Homo sapiens: one gene and its partner. The protein of the gene in region 2 purifies or fractionates together with the protein of the main gene of each other region. This does not show direct contact. Each region holds a gene or a part of one and is shown on either strand. Other genes may lie near its edges.

Region 1 (3,345 bases), on a different chromosome or scaffold from region 2:
AGGGGGACGGTAGAAATGGCCTGCCTCTCCGGCCAGCACACGTACAGCCATCTCACCCCCACACGGCTCTTCCTCCACAGCCCCATTTTGGATTACACTTCACCTCCAGCCACTCCAGCCCTGGGCGCTAGTACTACAGCTCCTGGGGAAACGCCCCGGGGTGTTGGTGCCCGACTCGTCCCCCAGCCGTCTTCGGCTTCACGGGGTGGGGGAGGGACAGCCCTGACCCCATCTGCTCTCCTAGGCTGCCTAGCAGGCTCCTGTCGCCGCTCCCCGCCCCTTCTTCCAGAGTTCCATCCACTCCTGCCCCCACTCGACCAGAGTTCCTTCCACAGCAGTTCCTGGCCTGGGCGCTGTCCAGCTCCAGGCTGGGTGGTCGAGTCTTCCCTGGGCTCCGAGCAGAGGGAACTCCGCAGCCCGCCCCAGCCTTGTCCTGGGGCGCCTCTGTCCAAGTCGGTTTTCTCTTCCCTGGCCCCCACGCCTCCACCCTCCACTTCTACGGGATGCCACCTCCACGAAGGAGAAAGGAAAGGAAATACAAAGGCATACATTCCGTTTCTGTGGAATTTGCTCTTTATTTTGGGACCAGGGAAGGACCACACACAGCCCTCCAGCCCAGGGGGCGGGGGCACCGAGACGCGGGCGGAGGGCCGCACCCGAACCCTGCCCAGACGCCGCCGTCGGGAGGCAGAATCCGGGTTTCTGGGGTCGGGAGTGCGTATGCAAATGACGTGGGCGTGGTTGGCAGATCTCCCAGGAGGCCTCAGGGGTCCTCACCACAGGTCTGGGCCCTCCGACCTGCGGAAGCGAAGGGGAAGGAATTGGATCTGGGGAGGCGAGCCTGGGAGACGTCGTTAAGTGATGTTGCCAGGGTAGGGCCAGGCCGCGCTCTCGGATGCAGGATGTGTGGTAACGGGCGCTTTTACCGCGACCTGACGGGGCGGTCCTCGCCGTCGGGGAAGAACGTTTTGGAAAGAAGCGTGTCCGGGCCGTCTCTTTTCCCATACCTGGGGGCGGGGAAGGGAAGAGCGTGGTCAGATCTGGCCACGCCCCCAGGTGGAGCGGGGCCGCAGGGTGAGAGCCCCAGGGGTCCCGCTCCGCGCCTGCGCTCACCGCTGCCGGGTGACCAGGTTGAGGTAGTGGCGCAGGGAGGCGTAGTAGCGGTTCAGCTCCTCCGGCGAGGCGTCTTCGCGGGGAGCCTCGGGTTTGATGGGGTAGGCGTCGACCAGCGCCCCTAGGCAGACGAGCAGGGCCAGAAGCACTGTGGTCAAGGCGGGCCACGGCCTGCGCACGAACACCATCTGGGAAGGCGACATTGGGACGTGGGTCATTCCAAGCCTCGACCCTACACGGCGGGAGGCTGCGGCTGCCGTCGGGGCCGCGCTCCGACGCTCTCCCTGGGGCTGGTACCGGACCAAGGCTCAGCCACCGGGCTTGCTGTGTGTTCTTGGGCACTGCACCGTCTCCTGACTCAGTTTCCTCATGTCAGAGGAGCATAAGCCCTGCCTGCCTCCCCACCCCCACCCCCGCTGCTGGCCTCCTTCCCACCTCCGATGGCCCCCTCCAATCCAGTTTCCTACCACTCACCCCCAGCTTCCACCATCCCAGCCTCAGTTTCCCCACAAAACAGCCTGGGTTTCCCCAGGCTTGAGCCCCCAGCCACTCACAGCGATAGCTTGTGAAGCAGACGAGCAGGAGGTGGAAGGCGAGGGAAGTCCCAAGGGCTGCACTGCCGCAGGTCAAGCTGAGGCCTCCTCTGCTCAGCGCTTTCCTTGTGGGGCTTATATCCCCGCCTGGAAAGGGAGGGGGAGTCCCAGGGGGAGGGGGAGCCAGCAGGGGGTGGGCCCTTCTTCCTCCCTCCTTCCACCCTCGCCAGATCGCTGAGCTTATACCCAGCCAGTGCGTGATGTCTCCACCTCGCAGGAGCTGAGGGGGCAGTTGCCATGCTCAGATTCGTGGTCTCACTGGATGGGGTACCCAGCCTGAACCCCATGTTCACCCCACAGCCCCCCAGTGGCAGGTCTAGCCTCCTGAGGAAGTGAAGCGGTTGGATCTAGACTCCTGGGGCAGCCCCTAGGACCAGGGTTGAGATTCTGTCTTCCCTAGCCTGTCCGTGGATGGGAGTTGGGGGTGGGAGGGTGGACACATTCCCTCCAGTCCGTGGGATGTGTGACCACTCTTTCCAAAAGACAACCCTTTTCAGCCTCTGTTCAGTAATACCTTGGAGAAGGGCTGAGGAATGACAGGACCTTTTGGGGAAAGTCTTTCTCCTGGAGGCAGGGTGGGAGCACCTGACCTTGGCTCCTGACCTGCAGTTTATGGTGTCTTGGGGAGAGGCCTCTCTGAACACTCCATTATGTCCTCTCTCTATTAAAGAGTTGGAAAAGAGGCAGGAGGAGGCAGAAACCAATCTCCCCGCCAGAAGCAGCTGAGTCGGCCACCTGTGTATCCAGACTGGCACACACAGACCCCAGTCCAGCCATGTGTGGTATAGAGCCCCCTCCCAAGGCAGAGTGTCTCCACCCCTATGCAGGTGTCATTCAGAGCACTGGTGTCTTCTGGGCCTGAGTGATGCCAAGGCTTCCCAGGCACATGCCACTGTCCCCAGCCCATGGCAGTCTCCACTGGGCTCTAAGCCCAGATCCTTTGAAGGAAAGGACTCGTGTTTATTAAGCACCTACTATGCACTAGGTAGTGCATAATTTCGGGCATCACAAGACGATGAGCTGAGTTTATCTCCATTTTCCAGATGAGGAAACTGAAGCCCTGGGAGGTGATGGAGCAGCCAAGCTCACCCACAATTCAAACAGGAAAAGCAGGGTGAGGCAGAACCCAGGAAGAGGACCTCTCAATTGTGAGGGGCAGAAAGGCTCAGCACCTGGAGTAGCCATTGGGGCGCCAGAGGCAGGCCTGGGAGCAGGGACCCGAAGACTAAGTCTAGGGCCCACACCCACTCTGAGAGGCGGAGTAGGGGAAGGACCTTCAGACTGCCAACCCCCTCAAACCCACCTGCCCAGGAGGAGAAAGGGCTGTGGGAAGGTCTCCCCATAAAGCCCTTCCAGCTTCCTCTCCCTGGCCTCGCCAGACCTCCAGTACTTCCAGATGTCCCATCGGCCCATAGGGACTGATGGGGCCAACTTGTCCAGGCCCTTGGTTCTGAGCCAGCCCCTCCAGCCCCAGGACAGATGGCTGTGGGCGCTATTTTTAGAGCTCTCCTGAGATGGGGAGTTCAGGGCTCTCTGTCACCATTTTATGGGTTCAATCACCTGCATTCTCCGGAAATGGCTCCTTATCAGCCAGTCAGGCCCCATGGGACTCCACATCCCAGGAAACACCAGGGTGCCC
Region 2 (4,384 bases):
AGGCCAAGGGCCGATCTTCTCACGCAGACCCCAGGCAGAGTCGGCCCTGATTACAGCTTGGGAGGACATGCTGCTTGAATCTTCCCTCCACTCTCTCCTTCTGTCTCACCTCCTCCCTGCCCCAACCCCACTCCTGCGTCAGGAGCACAGTTGCTCTTGCTCCGAAGCTGGGGAGGCCTTGAGTTCAGCCTGGGGGTCGCCAGGTCTGGCTGGCTCTGGGGCTTCTGAGCTCTGTGATCCTGGATGCCTCATTCCTGCTCCGAGCCTCAGCTCCCTCATATTCGGGATGGGGTTCAATCAACTCCCCGGGCCTTGAAAACTTCAGGAAAATTCCTGCCTGGTATTTTTAGTCCCGTCTTTCTCCTCAATCCACACTTCTTCTCCAGAAGCTCCTCCCATGGCTCCTGGGGATGAACAAAGGACACGTGGACTCGTGTGTTGTAGAATCTTTATTCAGGAGCTGGGCTGCCTCAGGGGCCTCCCCCTCCAACTCTATGTCCGATTGCTTTGTACCAGATCCAGCTGCTCAGGCCCTGGAAGGGTGGTGATGACCATGGTGGCCAGGGACCCATCTTGAGCATGGACGGGGATGGAAGCCTGCCAGGGTGGTGGGCTGAAGGGCGAGGTGTCCCTGGTGGGCTCAGGGTACCCAGGGCTATCTCAGAGGCAGCCGGTACACGCAACGTTCACACACAGCTCACAGTCGTCGTTAGCGATGGTCCCTGGGCAGGGAGAGAACTGGTCAGTTGACCTGAACCTGGGCCCTCTGTGGCCAGGCAGCAGAAGAGGTCTGCTTGGGAATGGGCGGCATCTTCCACAGACTGGGAGCAGGAACGTCTAGAGGTGGAGTGAGGGCTTGGGTTCAAGTCCCAGATGCTCTCCTTCCTAGCGGCCACTGGGCAAGTCACTCACACTCCCTGTGCCTGAGATTTCTTGTTTGCTAAATGGACAGGGTCACTGTGAGGAGATAATGCAGGACCGACAAGTCCCGGCACACAGTAGGTGCTCAGTAAGTGCTAGCTAGTTGCTACATTCTCGTGCCTGGCTCTGCACGATCCCTCAGGTTTCAGCTTGGCTGACACCTCCTCTTGGAAGCCTTTCACACCCCTGTCCCATCGCAGATGTCAGCCAGCTCTCCTCTCTGCTCCACGCAGCCATTGTCTGTTGATGGGTCTGTGCCTGGCGTGGACTAAGGGGACGAAGCAGGTTCCAGGCATGCCTGACTCACAGTGCCCAAACCGGGGAGTCCTGGGAGCCAGTGGGACAGGGCCTGAGTTACTTGAATCTCCCCATCCTCAGCCGCTGGGTGCTTAAGAGAAACAACCCAGGTGGAGGAGCCTGGGCGTGGGAGGAGACAGAGCGAGGTTCTGCAGGGAGCGGGGGCACTTACTCAGGGTCTTGAAGATGCTGGAAGCCTCCTGCGAGGCGCAGACAGGCTGAAGGTCCTGAGGCAGAGCAGGGTGGTGGCACACGGCGGGCAGGAGGCTCTGGGCCTGCAGGCGGGGGCTGGGTGCCCACTGTGCCTCCAGGTCACTCAGCTTCTTCATGGATTCCAGCTGGACCCGGAAGCCTTGGTACTACAGACAGGGGAGAGGAGATAGGAGCAGGTCAAGACCTGGTCCAGGGGCAGGCACTGCCATGACACCCAGGGTTGCTCAAACCCTGCAGATCCTCCAGAGCCTTCCCCGTCTCTATGGGAAGTCCAGGGCCACACTGGAAAGAGCCGCTGCGGTGAGAGGTGTGAGGAAGAAGCAGCGGGGCTGTGGAGCACAGTGGTTCGAGGCTTTAGAGACAGACAAGCCCTGGTTCAAATCCCACCTCTGCCCATGACCGGCTGCCTGTCTGTTCCCCACTCAGCCTCAGTTCCCTCATCTGACATCTCCCGTGGGGGCCTGGTACCAGGGCACAATCACTAACTGAGTACGCCTGCCTGAGCTCACATGGCAGAGTGATGGCAGCCCCAAGTAGCTGGTCTCTGAGGCCAGGGCTGTTGGGGAGGCCAAGTCTCCTGCACCCCTCTCTGGGACCCACTTTGTTCTTCCCAAGGAGACCATGCCCAGAGTCAGGGATGTGACACCCAGGGCCACAGACGTCTCTGCTATGCTGGGCGAGGCCAGCAGCATCCCCTGTGACGTGGCAGACAGGCCCTGCTGTGACGACTACTGCCACTCTCCCATGCCCCCTGGAAGGGCACTGGAACCCCCATAGTCTTCTATCTGGTCTTTGCACATGCTGTGCCCCTTGGCCTGGAACAGTTTCCCCATCATCTGTGTCTGGCAACCTCCTGTTCATCTTGCAATGCCAGCTCAAGGGTTACTTCTCAGGAAAATTTTTCTGGAGCCTGTCCTCCTCCACCTACATGTGGGTGAATATACGGAACTGTGGGAGCATAACAGGGTGTCTCCTTCCCTTTCTGGCCTCCTCCCATGCAAGGAGGAGCCTTCTGTTCCACACCCTGACCTCTGTGACCAGCACGGGCCTTTGAGGGGAGCAGCGCTGAATCAGTTTGGTGTTGTCATTGCCATCATCACTGCCATCAACATCTGGCTGCCCCCACCCACCAGCTGCCTTGGTCTCTGGGCTGTGATGGGTGTTGGGCTGAGCCCCGGGCCCCGTGCTCCCCCGGTGCCCCTCTGAATTCCCAGTACACCCTCTCCAGCCTAGCCTCCCACCATGGGGCCCTTCAGGCAAAGGGAACGCTGGCCAAGGGACTCACCTGGATGTAGACTGACTGTGTGCTCTGCAGCAGCAGCAGGAGGACCACGGCCACTCCTGGCAGGAGCCCTGATGCAGCCCTGCAGCCCATCGCGCTCCCTGGGTTCCCCCTGCCGCTGTCCACCGTCTCCCATCTGTGTCCCTGCCTAGCACCTCCTTATAGGTCAGGCTCAGGAGTCCTGGTCACTCATTAACTGGCCAGCTGGGGTGGGGTTGACAGCTAGCTGGCTCTCTGACAAGCCGGGGCTGGTTCCTAGGAAGGGGGTTGGGGGCGAGGAGGGCAGGAGCCCAGAGTCTATGGGAACACAGTGCTTGAACACCGAGTGCCTGCCATGTGCCGGGCTCTCCATGGGGGCCTTGGAGCACACCATCATTCACTCCTCAAGACACCTGTGTGGGTGTGATGACGGGGAGGCCATTTTACAGACAGGAAAAGTGAGGCTCAGGAGGGAGGGTGGCTTTCCCCAGGTCACGGAGCTAGTTAATGTCAGAGAAGGGGCTCCAGCCAGGTGTCCTTGGCCCAGGTCAGCCCATGGTCCTTTCTCTGGGGGAAGGATACAGACAGAGAGGCTGGTCCAGGGCAAAGTGGGCAGACACTGCTGATTTCAGGGTTCTCAAGACCCCACTCCCCCAAGACCCACATCTCTCTCACTCCCTCTCCTCAGTGCTATTTAACGACTATCTTTCAGACCAGTCCTGGCCCCACGTTTTGAACCTGCCTCTGCTTGCCATCTCCCACCTGTGCCTGGGTGCTTCAGGCCATGTTTGACCCATCTCACCTGTCTGTGCTTTCAGAAGCCAATAGCCTAATCCAGCATGGAGGAAAAGGCAGTAGTGTTGGAGGCAGATTGACCCGCATTCAAATCCTAGTCCTGCTGCAGCTGTGTGATTTAGGATACGTCACATCAATTCTAATGGAATCTTAGTTTTCTCTTCCATCAAATGGGCATGATACAACCCCTCTCGTAAGGTTGCTGTGAGGGCCCCGGCCCACCTGAGGTTGCCCTTATCTCCTGGGTAATGCATCCATAGCAGCCCCTGAATCTTACAGTTGCCTTCTAGGCAATGCATAACCTACTGCCCCAGTGGTTGAAGGTTGGGTCAGAGAGAAGAGGGCAAAGTCTCTAAGGGTGATATCACCACTGCCATACCAGGCAGCTGTAAACAGTGCGTGTGCCAGGGCTCAGCTCTGCCAGGCACAGACTCTGGCATGTGGCAGGCTCCCCTGACATTGAGCCTGAACGTTGGATTGAAGCCCTGATAGCTCACCTTGGCATTTAAGATGCCACTCCCAAAAGTGGCTAAAATCTGATGTCATCGTGCTTCCCCATACCAACCCTATTTGCACAGGTCTAATCCCATCTCATGTCTTTGCCTACTCATTCCACCTGCCTGAAATGCCATCTTCCTTTTTCTTATCTCAGACTGAAATGAAGAAGAAGCTCAAGTGAACTTTGGAATTTCTTATGTATTGCTTTGAATCCAGACTTCAGCCTTTGCTCTTTAGAGTCTATGGAAATGAAGGGAATCTTACATGCCCTCTAATCTGTAAAATGAAAACAACCATCTGGGAATAATAGCTCTCATTTCTTGAATACTGTGCACAAAGCTATGTTATAGTCGTAATCCCATTGAATCCTAAAGGATAGGCATAATGGTTATTCCCATT

The links.
Region 1: the proteins of GUCA2B (region 2) and PYY purify together in Homo sapiens (affinity purification with mass spectrometry; one large-scale study listed by BioGRID and IntAct). This does not show direct contact.

The regions. Positions count from the first base shown.
Region 1 is NC_000017.11:43,952,183-43,955,527, forward strand, and holds PYY (peptide YY isoform 1 preproprotein), read right to left. Parts: upstream 1,759-3,345; 5' UTR 1,668-1,758; intron 1,302-1,667; coding exon 1,114-1,301; intron 1,008-1,113; coding exon 927-1,007; coding exon of another isoform or gene 923-926; exon of another isoform or gene 799-922; coding exon 774-798; 3' UTR 551-773; downstream 1-550. UniProt on the Homo sapiens protein: This gut peptide inhibits exocrine pancreatic secretion, has a vasoconstrictory action and inhibitis jejunal and colonic mobility.
Region 2 is NC_000001.11:42,151,873-42,156,256, reverse strand, and holds GUCA2B (guanylate cyclase activator 2B preproprotein), read right to left. Parts: upstream 2,848-4,384; 5' UTR 2,807-2,847; coding exon 2,717-2,806; intron 1,578-2,716; coding exon 1,391-1,577; intron 723-1,390; coding exon 661-722; 3' UTR 437-660; downstream 1-436.